4 linked regions of the Homo sapiens genome follow. The protein of the gene in region 4 purifies or fractionates together with the protein of the main gene of each other region. This does not show direct contact. Each region holds a gene or a part of one and is shown on either strand. Other genes may lie near its edges.

What was found. Proteins that work in one complex are often made in the same cells at the same time.
Region 1: the proteins of TMPO (region 4) and YWHAE purify together in Homo sapiens (affinity purification with mass spectrometry; 3 studies listed by BioGRID). This does not show direct contact.
Region 2: the proteins of TMPO (region 4) and CANX purify together in Homo sapiens (affinity purification with mass spectrometry; 3 studies listed by BioGRID and IntAct, with this or other methods). This does not show direct contact.
Region 3: the proteins of TMPO (region 4) and CCT4 purify together in Homo sapiens (affinity purification with mass spectrometry, with the first as the bait; one large-scale study listed by BioGRID). This does not show direct contact.

Annotation. Positions count from the first base shown.
Region 1 is NC_000017.11:1,345,999-1,349,174, reverse strand, and holds part of YWHAE (14-3-3 protein epsilon), read left to right. Parts: intron 1-3,176. UniProt on the Homo sapiens protein: Adapter protein implicated in the regulation of a large spectrum of both general and specialized signaling pathways. Binds to a large number of partners, usually by recognition of a phosphoserine or phosphothreonine motif.
Region 2 is NC_000005.10:179,701,015-179,705,466, reverse strand, and holds part of CANX (calnexin isoform d precursor), read right to left. Parts: intron 1-4,452. UniProt on the Homo sapiens protein: Calcium-binding protein that interacts with newly synthesized monoglucosylated glycoproteins in the endoplasmic reticulum. It may act in assisting protein assembly and/or in the retention within the ER of unassembled protein subunits.
Region 3 is NC_000002.12:61,875,157-61,879,608, forward strand, and holds part of CCT4 (T-complex protein 1 subunit delta), read right to left. Parts: intron 3,894-4,452; exon of another isoform or gene 3,856-3,893; coding exon 3,713-3,855; intron 2,359-3,712; coding exon 2,237-2,358; intron 1,897-2,236; coding exon 1,764-1,896; intron 1,079-1,763; coding exon 939-1,078; intron 1-938. UniProt on the Homo sapiens protein: Component of the chaperonin-containing T-complex (TRiC), a molecular chaperone complex that assists the folding of actin, tubulin and other proteins upon ATP hydrolysis.
Region 4 is NC_000012.12:98,542,107-98,547,512, forward strand, and holds part of TMPO (thymopoietin), read left to right. Parts: intron 1-2,123; coding exon 2,124-2,243; intron 2,244-2,335; coding exon 2,336-2,431; intron 2,432-2,844; coding exon 2,845-2,955; intron 2,956-4,252; coding exon 4,253-4,341; intron 4,342-5,406. UniProt on the Homo sapiens protein: May help direct the assembly of the nuclear lamina and thereby help maintain the structural organization of the nuclear envelope. Possible receptor for attachment of lamin filaments to the inner nuclear membrane.

The DNA of each region.
Region 1 (3,176 bases), on a different chromosome or scaffold from region 4:
GAGACAGGGTTTCCCCGTGTTAGCCCGGATGGTCTCAATCTCCTAACCTCGTGATCCACCTGCCTCAGCCTCCCAAAGTGCTGGGATTACAGGCCCGAGTCACCGCACCTGGCCTAGTATTACATCTTTTTTTTTTTTCCTTTTTTCGTGAGACAGAGTCTTGCTTTGTCACCCAGGCTGGAGTGCAGTGGTGCTATCTTGGCTCACTGCAAACTCCGCCTCCCGGGTTCACGCCATTCTCCTGTCTCAGCCTTCCTGGTAGCTGGGACTACAGGTGCCCGCCACCATGCCCGGCTAATTTTTTTTTGTATTTTTAGTAGAGGCGGGGTTTCCCCGTGTTAACCCGGATGGTCTCAATCTCCTAACCTCGTGATCCGCCTGCCTCGGCCTCCCAAAATGCTGGGATTACAGGCGTGAGCCACTGTTCCCGGCCTACATTTTTTAATAAATTGGTTTTGAAACTGCAATGGTGCCTGCCTGTAATCTCGGCTGTTCAGCAAGGTGAGGCAGAAGGATCACTTGAGCCCAGGAGTTTGACACCAGCTTGGGCAAGATAAAACTTCATCTCACAAAATAAAATACTACTTTTGTGACTTGGGTTCCGTGGTGAATATAGGAGAATCGTCATGAAAGTGGCAGTTTACTAGGATGTGACTTTGCATTTAGTTTAAGGATTATTTAGATTTTTTTGTTTTTTAAAGAGACGGTATTTATGTCTTTTAATTTTAGAATATGTTAATGTCTGTCCCAGCATGTTGGAACATAATTTCTTTAAAGGGAGGGATCATTGCTTTTTCTCAAGTGATTTTAGTCTCTTCACCCTGTGGTAAGAGGATTGTTTCATATACGAATCCATAGGTAGGAAATACATGTTCTCCCTGCCTGTTCCCCTCTCTCCAAAATGTAGATACACTGGGCAAAGAAACATAGCCAAGGAATCCTTTTTCCCCTAATATCTGTATGTCTTTCAAGAGGATATTACTTCCTTCTCAGAGTAGAAGGGAGGAGGAGTAGACAGATTGTTGCTTAGAGTGAAGTTTACACGAAGTAAGACCAAAGTCCGGCTCCTGTATCATTGTTTTCCTTTGTCCTGCTCTGTTGGTTTATTTTTCTTGTAATGTTGCTTTCATATGATTGTTCTCCCTCCCTTTTTCCTTGCAATATAGATTCCTAAAGGAAAACCCAACTCTTCCTTTCCTAAAAACTCTACTTTGTAAGTCACGTTCATGGCACAGTGAATTCCGCTTTCAGTTTTGGTTCTTCACTAATCATGCCTGCGTATGATCGTCCTGTTGCTTACAGACTCTGCCTGTTCCACCTTCCAGGGCGCTGACCTAAGCCTTTTCCGGCCTGCTCCTCCTGCCTACTGTGGTTGGATGTGATGTATATGACAGTGACATTTTTATGCCAAAGTTACTTGGAACTTCTGGCACATCTCATGGTTGCTTACAAGCGAGTTGTGTTCTAGTGTTTGTGTTAATGATACTTTGGCAGTGATTTGCTGTTAGAGTGAATGTTCCTATCATGTTTCCTACGTTTGAATACGTTATTGTCCTTTGGAGAACAGTTGGGTGCCCATCAGTTCTTTCATCCCTAAGCAATTTTTTTTTGCCTTTGCATATTTTTTTTCTGTCTTATGAATTAAAGATCTTCATGTATTTTAAGTAGTTTTAAAATTTTATACATTTTTTTGAGACGGAGTTTTGCTCTTGTTGCCCCGCCTGGAGTGCAGTGGCGTTCAAAGCTCACTGCAGAAATAGAACTCCCCCACCTCAGCCCCCCAAGTAGCTGGGACTATAGACATGTGGCCCCATGCCCAGCGTATGTAGTTTTTTTTTTTTTTGAGACGGAGTCTCGATTGTCGCCCAGGCTGGAGTGCAGCGGCAGAATCTTGGCTCACTGAAAGCTCCGCCTCCTGGGTTCACGCCATTCTCCTGCCTCCCGAGTAGCTGGGACTACAGGCGCCTGCCACCATGCCTGGCTAATTTTTTTTTTTTTTTTTTGTATTTTTAGTAGAGACAGGGTTTCACTGTGTTAGCCAGGATGGTCTCGATCTCCTGACCTCATGATCCACCTCTCTTGGCCTCCCAAAGTGCTGGTATTACAGGCGTGAGCCACCATGCCTGGCTCCAGCATACATAGTTTTTTACTTTTAGTTTTATTTATTCTTTTTTTTTTTTTTTTGAGACGGAGTCTCACTCTGTTACCCAGGCTGGAGTGTAGTGGCATGTTCTTGGCTCGCTGCAACCTCCGTCTCCTGGGTTCAAGCAATTCTCATGCCTCAGCTTCCCAGGTAGCTGGGATTACAGGCATGTGCCACCACGCCAGGCTAATTTTTTGTATTATTTTTTCAGTAGAGATGGGGATTTACTGTGTTAGCCAGGATGGTCTTGATCTTCTGACCTCGTGATCCGCCCGCCTTTGCTTCCCAAAGTGCTGGGATTACAGGCGTGAGCCACCGTGCCCGGCGTTATGTTCATTTTTTGTAGAGACAGGGCTTCACTGTGTTGCTGAGGCTGTAAGTGGGTTTTGAAGTCACACAGCAATGTCAAGCGTTTCCGCCGCAGAAGAGATTTGAAAACTACTGAAACCTTGATGCTGTGACATTTGTCATTTTGAGATCATTTAGGCTGTTTCAAAGCTGTACTCAGTGTAAATGCTTCATGTGTGTAGGCAGCTAGTTTGGTGTTATTTGTCCATCCTAATTAAATAATTTAACAAGCATTATGAATGGATAGTCATTTGAACATTTATGATTCTTGGGTTGATTTTTCATTTATTTTGTTTCAAACTAGTTAACTGTGTAGTAATTGTAAGTGGTTTTTTTAAAAAAGTACAAGTGAATGTAACTTTTACCTGTTACATCATTTTTAAGGGAAAAGCCTGCATGCTTCTTTATTTTGGCTGACTTGTTTAATGCATACTAATAGGTAGATGACCCTCCAACCAATAGGTGGCTTTCTGTTGCATGTCATAGTGCAGTTGAAACTCCTTAGGGTAATCACCCTCTTTAAAGGCAAAAGACAAATAGCATGAGTGAAGTGGTCCAAATGCCATTCTTTAATAACCTCAGTGGTCTGATTTACTTTGAGCATGCTGTGTTTCACTCTGAAGTAAAATCTGATTATAGTTTGGTGTATCTGGCCAAGATACAAAAGCTGAAATATTTATAACAG
Region 2 (4,452 bases), on a different chromosome or scaffold from region 4:
AATAAAACTGAAACATACACAACATCCTCATATAGAGAGGATTGGTTACACAGATGTGGGGCATTCAAATACAATTTCCAACAAACTTTTGCATTTGTAAAGTGCTTTACAACAGACAAAAGCCCTTTCATACACTAATTTACAGGGGGTACCCGTTAAAACATTACAATGAAATAACAGAGATGGCCGGGCGCCGTGGCTCACGCCTGTAATCCCAGCACTTTGGGAGGCCGAGGCAGGTGGCTCACTAGGTCAGGAGTTCACAACCAGCCTGGCCAACATGGCGAAACTCTTCTCTACTAAAAATACAAAAATTAGCTGGGAGCGATAGCGGGCGCCTGTAGTCTCAGCTACTTGGGAGGCTGAGTCAGGAGAACTGCTTGAACCCAGGAGGTGGAGGTTGCAGTGAGCACGCCACTACACTCTAGCCTGCGTGACAGAGCAAGAGTTCGTCTCAAAAAAAAAAATTAACACAGAAGATAATTCCTCTCATATTAAGGCTTAATATGGATACGGTTGCTCAAATATCATCAATAGACATGTTTTCAAATTAGCGTTTTAGAACTCAAAAAGAATATTAAACTAAGAACAAGCTACTTTTTAAAATTTATATATTTTATTTATTTATTTTGTGATGGATTCTCCCTCTGTCGCCCAGGCTGGAGTGCAGTGGCACCATCTCAGCTCACTGCAACCGCCGCCTCCCAGGTTCAAGTAATTCTCCCACCTCAGCCTCTTGAGTAGCTGTGATTACAGGCACCCACCACCATGCCCGGCTAATTTTTGTACTTTTAGTATAGACAGGGTTTCGCCATGTTGGCCAGGCTGGTCTCGAACTCCTGACCTCAGGTGATCCACCTGCCTCAGCCTCCCAAAGTGCTGGGATTACAGGCGTGAGCCACTGCACCTGGCCAAAACAAGCTCCTTTTTTTTTTTTTTCCTGAGATGAGTCTTGCTCTATCGCCAGGCTGGGATGCATTGGCACTATCTTGGCTCACTGCAACCTCCGCCTCCTGGGTTCAAGTGATTCTCCTACCTCAGCCTCCCAAGTAGGTGGGATGACAGGTGTGCACCACCACATCCAGCTAATTTTTGTTATTTTTAATAGAGACAGGGTTTCACCGTGTTGGCCAGGATAGTCTCAATCTCTTGACGTCGTGATCTGCCCGCCTCGGCCTTCCAAAGTGCTGGGATTACAGGAGTGAGCCACCGCACCCGGCTTATCTCTTCTTTTCTAACCACGTAAGCGCCCTGTGTATTATATTAGATGTGTCTTGGGGTAGTGGCTCTCTTTCCACGGAGGACCACAGATCTAAAGAAATAAAAACTGAGCTACACAGATGCACAAGATGATGTGGTTGGTAGCAGGTAAATTTTCATTTTTGGGCTTGAGAAAGTACAGGTACAAGGTGGGGGAGAAAACAAGTAGAAGATACACAACTAAAAATGTGTGCGCACACACACACAAGATGTCCTTTTCTCCTCACATCCTCTGCCCACACAGTCACCCAATCAATCATAGTCTTTCACTCTTCTCCATTACTGACATCAGGATACTTAATGTTACCTTATATTACCAGGGCCTCTAGTTTCCTCCTCCTCTTTCAAGCTATCCTACAAGAAGACTCATCACCCAAAAACTATCATGAGTCCATGTTTGCAAAAATTTCTAAGTCTTTTAGCTAGTAATCAGCACCCTCTCCCTCTATAGCTGCTCTACATGCTATTCCCCCAGGAATCTTCAACTTCCTCTATTAAGACCTTATTTCCCAGCCTGGCCAACATAAACATAGCCTGACCCTGTCTATACAAAAAAAAAAAAAAATTATCCTGTCTCTACAAAAAATCAAAAAAAGAAAAATTTAGCCAGGTATGGTAGCACACACCTGTTGTCCCAGATACTAAGAAGGCTAAGGTAGGAGAAGCCTGAGTCTGACAGGTTGAAGCTAAGTGAGTCGTTGGGCAGGGTGGGGTGGCTCACGCCTGTAATCCTAGCACGTTGGGAGGCTGGTAGACTGCCTGAGCTCAGGAGACCAGCCAGGGAAACATGATGAAACTCCGTTTCTACTAAAATACAAAAAATTAGCCGAGTGTGGTGGCGCACACCTGTAGCCGCAGCTACTCAGGAGGCTGAGGGAGGAGAATCGCTTGAACCTGGGAGGCGGAGGATGCAGTGACCCGAGATGGCGCCACTGCACTCCAGCCTGGGCCACAGAGACTCCACCTCAAAAAAAAAAAAAAGACTCCACCACTCCACCAGGCGCGGTGGCTCACGCCAATAATCCCAGCACATTGGGAGTCCAAGGCAGGCAGATCATCTGAGGTCAGGAATTCGAGACCAGCCTGGCCAACATGGCAAAACCCTGTCTCTACTAAAAATACAAAAATTAGCTGGGCAGGCTGGGCGTGGTGGCTCACACCTGTAATCACAGCACTTTGGGAGGCCGAGGCAGGTGGATCACCTGAGTTCGGGAGTTCAAGACCAGCCTGACCACCACGGAGAAACCCTGTCTCTACTAAAAACACAAAATTAGCTGGGTGTGGTGGCAGATGCCTGTAATCCCAGTTACTCAGGAGGCTGAGGCAGGAGAATAGCTTGAACCCGGGAAGTGGAGTTTGCAGTGTGAGTTGAAATCACGCCACTGCACTGCAGCCTGGCCAACAAGAGTGAGACTGTCTCAAAAAAATAAAAAATAAAGTGAGCTGTAATGGCACCACTGCATTCAAGCCTGGGCAACAGAGTAAGACTGCCTTAAACAAACAAACAAACAAACAGAAAAAGAAGGCAGAGTTTCAGAGATATTTGCAGACCCGTGTTCATAGCAGTACTACTCACAACAGCCAACAGTCAGAAGCAACCCAAGTGTCCATCAATGGATGAATGATTAAACCATATGTGGCATAGGCATACAATGGAATACTATTCAATCTCAAAAAGGAAGGAAATCCCATCACCGGCTATAACATGGATGAACTTTGAAGACAATATGGTAAGTAAAATAAGCAATTCACAAACAGATACCACAAAGTTTTAAAAAAGAAGGAAGGAAGGAAAGGAGGGAGGGAGGGAGGGAAGAAGGGAGAGAAAGAAAGCTGAGCTTAATTTCTGGTCTCCTGGTTGGCATCGTGGCTCGCGCGTGTAATCCCAGAACTCTGGGAGTTGGAGGAAGCAGGATGATCGCTTGAGCTCAGGAGTTCGAGACCAGCCTGGGCAACAAAGCGAAGTATCTATGAAAAATTAGGAAAAAAAAAAAAATTAGCTGAGTGTAGCGTCATCCGCCTGTGGATCCAGCTACTCAGGAGACTGAGGCAGGAAGATCACTTGAACCAATAACAGCAGGAGTTTGAGACTGCAGTGAGCAATAACCACGCCACTGCACTCCAGCCTGATGAAGAGCAAGACCCTGTCTCTAAAAAAATAAGTAAGGCTGAGCGCGGTGGCTCACACCTGTAATCCCAGCACTTTGGGAGGCCGAGGTGGGCGGACTGCCTGAGCTCAGGAGTTCGCAACCAGCCTGGACAACCCGGTGAAACCCCGTCTCTACTAAAATACAAAAAACCGGGCCGGGTGTGGTGGTGGGCACCTGTAGTCCCAGCTACTTGGGAGGCTGAGGCAGGAGAATTGCTTGAACCCAGGAGGCGGAGGTTGCAGTGAGCCAAGATCACACCACTGTACTCCAGCCTGAGAGGGAGACTCCGTCTCAAAAAAAAAAAAAAAAAAAAAAAAAAAGTACATCTGTTGGAGTAACAAAGAATTCAACCAGGACTTTCCTGAAAAGTTTTACCAAAAGCTGTATAGGTTTTAACTGTTTAGGTACTTTTATTATTTCCTAGGAGTTATTATAAACGGCGTATTCTATTTGCACAGTTCATTACACTTTTTTTTTTGTTTTTCCTGAGATGGAGTCTCACTCTGTCACCCAGGCTGGAGTGCAATGGAACCATCTCCGCTCACTGCAACCTCCGCCTTCCAGGTTTAGTGATTCTCCTGCCTCAGCCTCCCGAGTAGCTGGAGGTTAATTTTCTGTATTTTTAGTAGAGACAGGGTTTCACCATTTTGGCGAGGCTGGTTACCAACTCCTGGCCTCAAGTAATCCGCCCACCTCAGCCTCCCAAAGTGCTCGAACTACAGGCGTGAGAGCCACCGTGCCCAGCCAATTCATTACACTTTTTAAAGTAGTTTCATGTTCACCATTTTATCTGCCCCTCCCAATTGCCCCCTAAAGGTGAGGAACCCAGGAGACTTCTCATTCCTATTTTGAAGTTACGGAAACCAAAGTGGGACAAAAGCTACCACACTGGGCCGGGCGCAGTGGCTCACGCCTGTAATCCCAGCATTTTGGGAGGCCGAGGTGGGCGGATCACGAGGTCAGGAGATTGAGACCATCCTGGCTAACACGGTGAAACCCCGTCTCTACTAAAAATACAAAAACAAAATTAGCCGGGCGTGGT
Region 3 (4,452 bases), on a different chromosome or scaffold from region 4:
ATTACGCACTTTTTATCAAAACATAATAATGCTTTTCCAGCTTGTAACTGCAAGGAAAAATAATGATACTGCTAAAAAAAAAAATGCAGATTTCTGGTGGTTTACCCAACTCAAATGTTTCTATAAAAATTGCTCTTAGAGGCTGGGTGCGGTGGCTCATGCCTGTAATCCCAGCACTTTGGGAGGCTGAGGCGGGTGGATCATGAGGTCAGGAGATCGAGACCATCCTGGCTAACATGGTAAAACCCCATCTCTACTCAAAAAATACAAAAAATTAGCCAGGTGTGGTGGCACGTGCCTGCAGTCCCAGCTACTCGGGAGGCTGAGGCAGTAGAATCACTTGTTGAACCCAGGAGGCGGAGGTTGCAGTGAGCCGAGATTGCACCACTGCACTCCAGCCTGGATGACAGAGTGAGACTCTGTCTCAAAAAAAAAAAAAAAAAAATTAAAAAAAATTGCTATTAGAAGTGTGGTTTAGACTCTAAAAACTGCATGCTTTCTTGGCCCTGTTCCTTAAGGGCTCCACCCTGAAGCCAATAATCGAAGAAATAAGTTTTTTAAAAGGCCAAAACACAACATTCTGGCAGTTAGTTGGCTATTTTAAAAAACCTACTTTTTTTTGTAAAAGAAAATTACACCTTTATTGTTTTGAATTTACAAGTCATATATTTGTTTAAAATGCTTTTCCTAGACATCTTAACTGAACTTATACCATTTTTTCCCTTGGTCTGAGCAAATGATGGTACAATATTGAGGCCTAACATTTTACCTGTGCTTTTAAAATAAAAATTCTCCATTTCGTTTCACCTAAGAGTTGTCTGTTAAGAAATACGAACTTAGAGTAAGTGCTTAAATCATATATTTTATCAGAAAAAATAAACTGCTAGTGGAGATCCAAAATTATCATTAAGGGATGAACAAAATAAATAGCCCCACACCTTAGAATAGATTTCTGTATGAGAAGGACATTACATCCTGTTTTTTTAATTTGCTTCACTAAATTTAAAATATAGGCTCTCTCTTCTCGCAGCACTCGGTCCATCTGGGCATAGTCAGAAACCACTATTTGATTATCCATCTGTTCAGAAAAAGAACATCATAATTTGCATTGTAAGATATTTTAAGTTTAAAAGTAGAATTTTAAGCGAAAATACTATGTGTTGTATAAATTCAACCAAAACTATATCAAGTAATAAATTATATAGACATGCATAGAAAAGAGTCTGGATTAAGATACACATCCCAAACTTGAGTCTTTTATTTTCAACTAAGTACACTGGTATCTTACATTTTGCAAGTAAATTTTTTATAACCAAAAAATATAAAATGGTTACCCTAGTTGTTTTCAAAAGATAGGGTCCCTCTCTAATCTGTGTGAATTTGTAAATTAACAGCAACAGTGAAAAGATGGGGTCCCACTATGTTGCCCAGGCTGGAGTGGAGTGCAGGGACTATTCACAGGTCATGGAATAGCACCCTGCAACCTCAAACTCCTAGGTTCAAGCAATTTTTCTGCTTCAATTTCCCAAGGAGCTGGGACTACAGGCATCGTTGCAAATGGCTAGCTCTCAATTTCAATATCCCAACTGAGGATACAGACTTGTCACTTGTGGCACCAACAATTACTATTTTTGTCTCAATTCTAGTAAGTCTTTTGAGATCTGCTTTAAATCACTAGTAGTATTTTCTATTTTTAATAAAGAAATGCCTGAGTTATTAAAAAGTTAAACACAGAGAACCAATTTCATTTGGATTCTACTTACGTCTGTTTTGGGAGCAGATAAGCAAAACTGAATAAGCCCAATCTTGGCCTTTTCAACTCTGGTTATGCCAGAATTTGACACTTTTTGGGTGAGAACCAGCCCTTCCACCAACTCACAGTCATCAATTGTCCCACTAAGGATAAAAGAAAACAAAGAGGGGTAGTTAAGAGGGAGTGGACATCTGTACGTTTAATAGATGAACAGATTAAAAGTCATCAGTCCAATAAAATATGATTCAGCCTCACATTTATTATTGCCCCACTCCTGGATCTCTTTGATCCACTGCTGCCTTACTATCATAAGGTAACATAAACAAAATCTCCAGATGCCCATACTAATACAAATTCTCACGAAAACAAAACCAAAAAGAGAAAAGAGAGCTTTGTGACTTTCATCTAGGTGTTTTTATTTATTTTTGGCAATCTGATGCTCATTTTCAAATTTTTATTCAAGTTGTAATTAGAGATGCTTACCCAAGCTTCTTAACTATTTTAATATCTCTAAGATCTACACTGGTGGCTGTGGCTGGGTCAATCACTTTCATCACTGCATTTACACTCATTGGAGAAAGCAGACTTGAATACTGAGAAACCACCTAGAATTATTAAAAAAAAAAAAAAGTTACCTTCACAGTAGAAAAAAGTCCTAATTTTTCAATGACAAAGATACTTAAGAAAGACTCTTATAATTTTTGCAGTGGGGTGTGGGTATGAAGAGGGAAACACTCATGAGAAGACAGTCCATAAAGTGTCTTTTCCATTCAGGTTGTCACCAGGGGCACAAAATAAAAACATGTATGCTTGCTTTTTTCTTTTATTAATATAATAGCCGGGACTGTAGAATATCAAAGTTTTACAGGAAATCCAAAAAGCATAAATTTAATTTTACGTGAGTATTTTCTATCTAAAATGAATGTGTGATGAGGCATCAATGTTATGTATGTACATTCCTGATGAGGGGTTGATAAAAATTGCTAACATTTATCAATCACTTAACATATGCCAGGCAGTGGTCTTAGAACTTTACATATTAACTCATTCAATCTTCAGATGGAGAAACTGAAGCCAAGAGGTTAAGTCATTTGGCCAAACAGCGTAGTTAAGTGGTGAAGTCAGTACTGAACAAACACAAGCAGTCTAGACTCAATGCCTAGTGCTTGTAACCATTACGCTATACTATCTGTATTAGTTCTAAGGACATCCAACAGTATCACTTAGTGTCCCTAACACTACCTAACATTCAAACAAAATGAATGTATGGACTTAATACTGATTTTTAAAAGGAAAAAGGATTAGGGGAAGGAAGGGATAAACACAGGATATTACAGAAAACAAGTGACATGAGTTCCAAAGAAATTTAAAAGCACAACACCGCTTTAAGTTTGGTAAATAAGAAAAGCAGCATAAGTATTAGTTAAGGGATGGACCACGATGGGCAGCCTGTCCTGGGTTCAAATCTCAGCTGTTTCTGTTAGCGGTCCTTGGATAAGTTACTCCTCTAGATCTACTCTTTTCATCTATAAAATGGGGATATGACTATCTGAGGGCCTTGAAGAGGACAATAAATGTAAAAAACTTATCACAATGCCCACCATATTAAATATTCAATAAAAATTAGCTATACTGCCAGTAATCTATGGCAGTCTTTCTGATTTGGTGGAGGAAAAGGTTTCTTATAGGCAAATTAAAATATCTAGCTTTATCAAAACACTGTTACAATGCATTAAACAGAAAAGTGGAAATGGATATAGTATATATTAAATATCCTAACTCCTTTGTTAGCCTTATGGCTCATTTCCTCTCTTAATCTTAAACCAATTCAATTATACAGATTATAACAGTTACCTAGCCACTCTTGAGATTTAGTATTTATGTACCGTATAGCATCAAGAATCATAGAGTAACACACTTTTAACTAATTTGACAAGTATCCGTTAGTGTTTGTCTCACCTTTGAGTTCAGTGAAGTGGTTGCACTATTTAACAAAGTTTCTCTGTCACTCAGTTCCACAGGTCGAGACATGTCAGTCAAGATTTCAATGCCCTTTTCCAGGGCCTTCTGGAATGACTCAGAAATGATGGTTGGATGAATCCCTGTAATTTGTGAAAGTCTAGTTATTTAATTGTAACAGGTAAACTACACATTTGACATGGCTTAAAAATTTTCTACTCAATGTCAAAGCAAGCACAAATTTAACTATTCTTAATTACAAACTTATGCTTCAGTTGTAATATAGTGGCTTGAATAACCTGCTAACTATGGCTAATAATTTACTTCCATCCAACTTAAAACAGATTACACACTTATTAATGGTCTTGACTAAAACCAAATTTTATACTTTTTTTTTTTTTTTTTTTTTCTGAGACAGGGTCTTACTCTGTCACCCAGGCTAGAGTGCAGCGCCCTGATCTCAGCTCACTACAGCCTCAACCTCCCAGGCTCAAGTGATCCTCCCACCTCAGCCTCCTGAGTAGCTGGGACTACAGACACACGCCACCACACCCGGCTAATTTTTTTTGTATTTTTTTTTTTTTTTTTTGGTGGAGACAGGGTTTTGCCATGTTGCCCAGTCTGGTCTCAACTCCTTGGGCTCAATTGTTCTGCCAGCCTCAGCCTCCCAAAGTGCTGGGATTACAAGTATGAGTCACCGCACCTGGCCGATACTTCTCAAAATATCACAAATCTACATT
Region 4 (5,406 bases):
TTTGCATGTGTCACTGCATATTTTTTGCCAGTTTATCTTGGGGAAGCGTACCAGTAAAATTGCTAGGTAATTTCACCATTACATTTCTCTGCATATGAGTTGAAGCATTTTGCATTCCCACCAGCAGTGTTTGAAAGTACTGTTCTCAAATGGAGGAATATGAGGCTTTTTTGTTTTGTTTTGTTTTTTAATAAAGTTAGTACGAGTAACCATATTGGTCATGTTTTACTTAAATTGATAGGCCTTCAAGATGGCTTTTAGTTATCTCAGGAGCTTTAGAAATTATCTATTCCCAGACCTGGAGAGATTCTGATTTAATTGGTTATGGTAGTTGGGGGCATTTGCTTTTTTTTTTTTTTTTAAAGCTCTCCTTGATGGTACTGTGCCACAAGGATTGAGAATCTCAGATTATAAAACTACCTTTCCGTCTATTCAAATAGTTGGTAATTTGACTATTAAAAACCACTTACTCTGGCCAGGTGCAGTGGCTCACACCTGTAATCCCCGCACTTTGGGAGGCCCAGGTGGGTGGATCACCTGAGGTCAGGAGACCAGCCTGGCCAACATGGCAAAACCCTGTCTCTACTGAAAATACAAAAAAATCAGCCAAGTGTGCTGGTGCGTGCCTGTAATCCCAGCTACTCAGGAGGGTGAGGCAGGAGAATCACTTGAACCTCGCAGGTGGAGGTTGCGGTGAGTGGAGATTGCACCACTGTACTCCAGCCTGGGCAACAGAGCGAGATTCTGTCTCAAAAAAATAAATAAAATAAAAATTAAAAAGCAGTTACTCTGTGTATGTCTGTAATTTGTTTACAAGTTTCTCTTTTGACAATAATTTTGCATTCAGCAAATACTTCCTAATTGATAGGATGAGGAACCCAGAGATTCAGATTGTGACTTAAAACTCTTATAATATCAATTCCAAATATAGATAAATACAAAACCATGATTTATGAGACTATGTCTGTAACTTGTGGGGTTTTGGTAGTATTACATCCAGCCATTTAGGCATATTTATTGGATGACCACTCCTGTCACAGGATTAAAGTTTAAAAAAAAAATCTGTCTTTAATAGACATTGACTTGGACCTAAAACCATCAGTAATCTAGGTTAAATATTGGCGTGAAAGCAAAAGTGACAACAGAAGGACACTCTACTATAATACTGATCATTGATGGATGTTCTGTAGTTAAAAGAATTTAAAAGAATCATCTGGTAATAGCGACTTCAAAACTGAAAACCTTAAACTACTTGGAATGCGGAATTTCGGGCCCTACAGCTACAGAATCAGAATCTGCATTTAACAGAAGCTTCAAGTGATTGATAGGCACATTACAATTTAAGAAGAACTGATCTAATGGGTTTTAAACCAGTATGTAAGAAATGCTGGATTCTTTAAAAATGATCAGTGGAACATAGAAATTAATCTGAGACTGAGAATTAATCTGAGGCAGCTGTTTTCTGTCTTTCTGTAGTGACATGGATAGCATTGAGATTTGAAAGTGACGTTAGGCTTGCATATTCATTAAAGAGTGACCACAGGGTTTTTGTGGCTACCTAATTTTGTATCTGTTTCCAAGAAAAATTTGACACCTGAGAATTTTTTAGTTCAAATAAGCTATATGTGGGATTATAATTTAAACTGATTCTACTAAAATGATTATAACCATATGAAAATAATAATGTTTATGCTAACAATTACAAAAGTTTGTATTTTTGTTTTAAAAGGAAACTGACTTATAATAGATGACTTTTTTCTAAGTCATGATCAGTCTGCTTTTTGTTTAGACAGAGATGTAGCTCCAATACTAGAGCCAAATAGCACACAGTGAGTCAAAAAGGGAACTGGTGATAGTTGATGTGCTTTTTTTCCCATAATGTTTATAATTTGTGAGCTACTATAGGTGGATTCTTTAGTGTATTTTAGCACTTTTTAAGTGTTTCCTGATGCCTAAATATCAGTTCAATTAATACATTTAGGAATATTTTGAGGACATAGCCTTGTTTGTAAATGCTGGCATTTGGAGACTTCTATTTCATGGCTTCTCAGTGTGCCAGTATGGCCGTTATTAAAGTATTTGATGTTAGAATATGACTTTTTAATGTGTTGATGCTTGAATAGAGCTATTCTCAAGCTGGAATAACTGAGACTGAATGGACAAGTGGATCTTCAAAAGGCGGACCTCTGCAGGCATTAACTAGGGAATCTACAAGAGGGTCAAGAAGAACTCCAAGGAAAAGGGTGATGCAAGGCTTATTCCTTGGGTTTTCAGATTTGTAGGGTTTTAGTATTATTTTATATTTATTGTTTTTGTTTTGTTTTCAAACTAACAGGTGGAAACTTCAGAACATTTTCGTATAGATGGTCCAGTAATTTCAGAGAGTACTCCCATAGCTGAAACTATAATGGCTTCAAGCAACGAATCCTTAGTAAATATGTTTCATAAACTATACAAGTGGTATTCTTTGTAAATTACCCTTTAATTGGAAATGGGGAGGTGGTGAATTTTGGCAAATCTCAAATTTACATGTTTTTTTTTTTTAACAATTTTAAACTGATTTTCCCCATATAGTTCTGAATTTTAGAATTTTCCTATAATATCCAATTTATGTAAAGAAATCTAATTCATTGTACAAGAAAGTATAAGGATATTTTTTGTTAAAATATTTGAAGAATGAGGCTTCATATGTGAGGCACTAAGTTGTGTTTGTAGGCTGTGTTGCTTAAATCTTTACTAAGGGAAAATTTCTAATATTACAGAGATAAAATATCTTTCTTTTCTTTTTAAGTGTCTGTGTTATGTTTGGATAATTCTGAGTCTGAATAATTTGAATCTTGGCAGGTTGTCAATAGGGTGACTGGAAATTTCAAGCATGCATCTCCTATTCTGCCAATCACTGAATTCTCAGACATACCCAGAAGAGCACCAAAGAAACCATTGACAAGAGCTGAAGTAAATGAATACAATTTAGATCGATGCTATCATTGATCTTTCAAAGAGGAAATATAAATATTTGTTTGTTTTTTTTTTTTTTTTTTGGAGTGGGAGGGAGCAGAGCTTTCTTTATTGGGTGGTGTGTGTAAATATGCATAAATTATTTTAAGGACACTTTTATTAGTGAAAACAGAAATTAACTAATATAGTTTGACATGCTAATACTATCCTCTTGCCACTGTATCCCTCTTAAGTTCCAGTTTTCAAGGGAGTGGTCATTTCTGTTCTGCTTATAATATGTTCTGTTTGTCATGGATGCAAGTTTGAAAGTGCTGCTGGGCTATGAGGGAGGCTACACTTTCTTTTGTTGACGGGTCAAATAAGAGACTTTAACATAACTTCATGTGGTGCTGGAATGGGTTAACTCCTGTGTAATTAAGCTTGAAAGTACTAACTGCATGGTGCATTTTAATTTGAATGAATCTTTACAAAAGGAGCCGAAACATTTATTATTTTGTTCTGGACATAAAGGTAAACAGTAAAACAAGCTAAACATTATATTTTTTTTAATTTGGGCATATTGCATTGACTATAATTTTAAAACATATAGTAAAGTTTGCTAAAGGTTCATGTTAAGTATCTTCTGTATTTTATCTTTTACTACAGAATTCTTAATAAATGAAGAAACAGTATACTTTTTTTTTTTTGAAACGGAGTCTTGCTCTGTTGCCCAGGCTGGAGTGCAGTGGCACGGTCTCAGCTCACTGCAACCTCCGCCTCCTGGGTTCAAGCGATTCTCCTGCCTCAGCCTCCTGAGTAGCTGGGATTACGGGTGCCCGCCACCACGCCCAGCTAATTTTTGTATTTTTAGTAGAGATGGGATTTCACTATGTTGGTCAGGCTGGTCTCGAACTCCTGACCTCAGGTGATCCACCCGCCTCAGCCTCCCAAAGTGCTGGGATTACAGGCGTGAGCCACCGTACCCGGCCCAACAATATACTCTTAATAGTAAAAAACAAAATCAATGAGGGAATTAGCATTGCCATGTTAGATTACTGAATTTTTTCCCCCCAGTTATTTAAATGTGTGGCAGTTTTTCACTCCAATAACCACATATATAAGGTATCTTCAAGAAATTTGAAGAGAGCCTTGGAAGCATGTGGATACCTAAATAATAATTTAGAAATGGCAGCTGTAAAATCTATGATAGATTTAAAGGCATTTTGTTCTCTAAAACTTACTATTTATGTTTTAATTATTGCATGTTTACACTAAATTTTAACTTGTGGTTGTTTGTTTGTCTGTTTCTTATTAGGTGGGAGAAAAAACAGAGGAAAGAAGAGTAGAAAGGGATATTCTTAAGGAAATGTTCCCCTATGAAGCATCTACACCAACAGGAATTAGGTATTCAGATACATTTAAACAAGTACTAGTGTATTCTAGTAGGGAATCTTTATTTTTAATTCTTCATCACAAAGTTACTGTACTTCTGCTCAGAATTAAGCTGTTTTTTTGGAGCCAGGTACAATGGTACATGCCTGTAGTCCCAGCTACTCAAGAGACTAAGGCAGGTGGATTGCTTAAGCCCAGGAGTTCGAGACCAGTCTGGGCAACATAATGAGACTCTGTCTACCCACCGACTTTTAAATAAATAAGTGAACGAACTGTTCTTTTGGGAGCAGTTTAATTCCCCTAAGCCCACCAGTAAATATTCTTGAAAGTTGAATGAGTTTCAAAATTGCGATTGGTAAATGGAGGATTTTAAATAAATCACTTACTTACTACTTAAATTCATATGTTAAAATCTAAACGAAAATCTAGTGAGAAATAGTTTTTCCCCCCTAAGTTTCTCTTTTCTAATTGAAAAGGCTGTGTTTATGTATCTTAATTTTTAACTGAAAGAAACACAGCCAAAACTGTTTTGTTTTTCCTCTTTACTCCTAAACATGAGCTTTGAAGAGCCTTTAAGAAGGCAGGTTTAGTGACTATTTATCAGTGTTCTGAATATTCTTTTCTAATAAAGGATGCATCGAACTTTTTTTTTTTTTTTGAGACGGAGTTTTGCTCTGTTGCCCAGGCTGGAGTACAGTGGCGTGATCTCGGCTCACTACAACCTCCACCTCCTGGGTTCAAGCGATTCTCCTGCCTCAGCCTCCTGAGTAGCTGGGATTACAGGCACCCACCATCATGCCCGGCTAATTTTTGTATTTTTGTAGAGACAGAGTTTCACCATGTTGGCCAGGCTAGTCTTGAACTCCTGACCTCAGGTGATCTGCCCGCCTTGGCCTCCCAAAGTGCTGGGATTGCAGGCGCGAGCCACCATGCCCAGCCCATCTAACTTTTAAAATAGAAAATATGTAGAAGTTTTAAATAGGTTGACTGACCTCACTGCTTTATATGTATCAATTTTCTACTGTTACCTCAGGGAATGTGCTTGGAATTAGGAGTGGCAATGACATTTTATGTTAT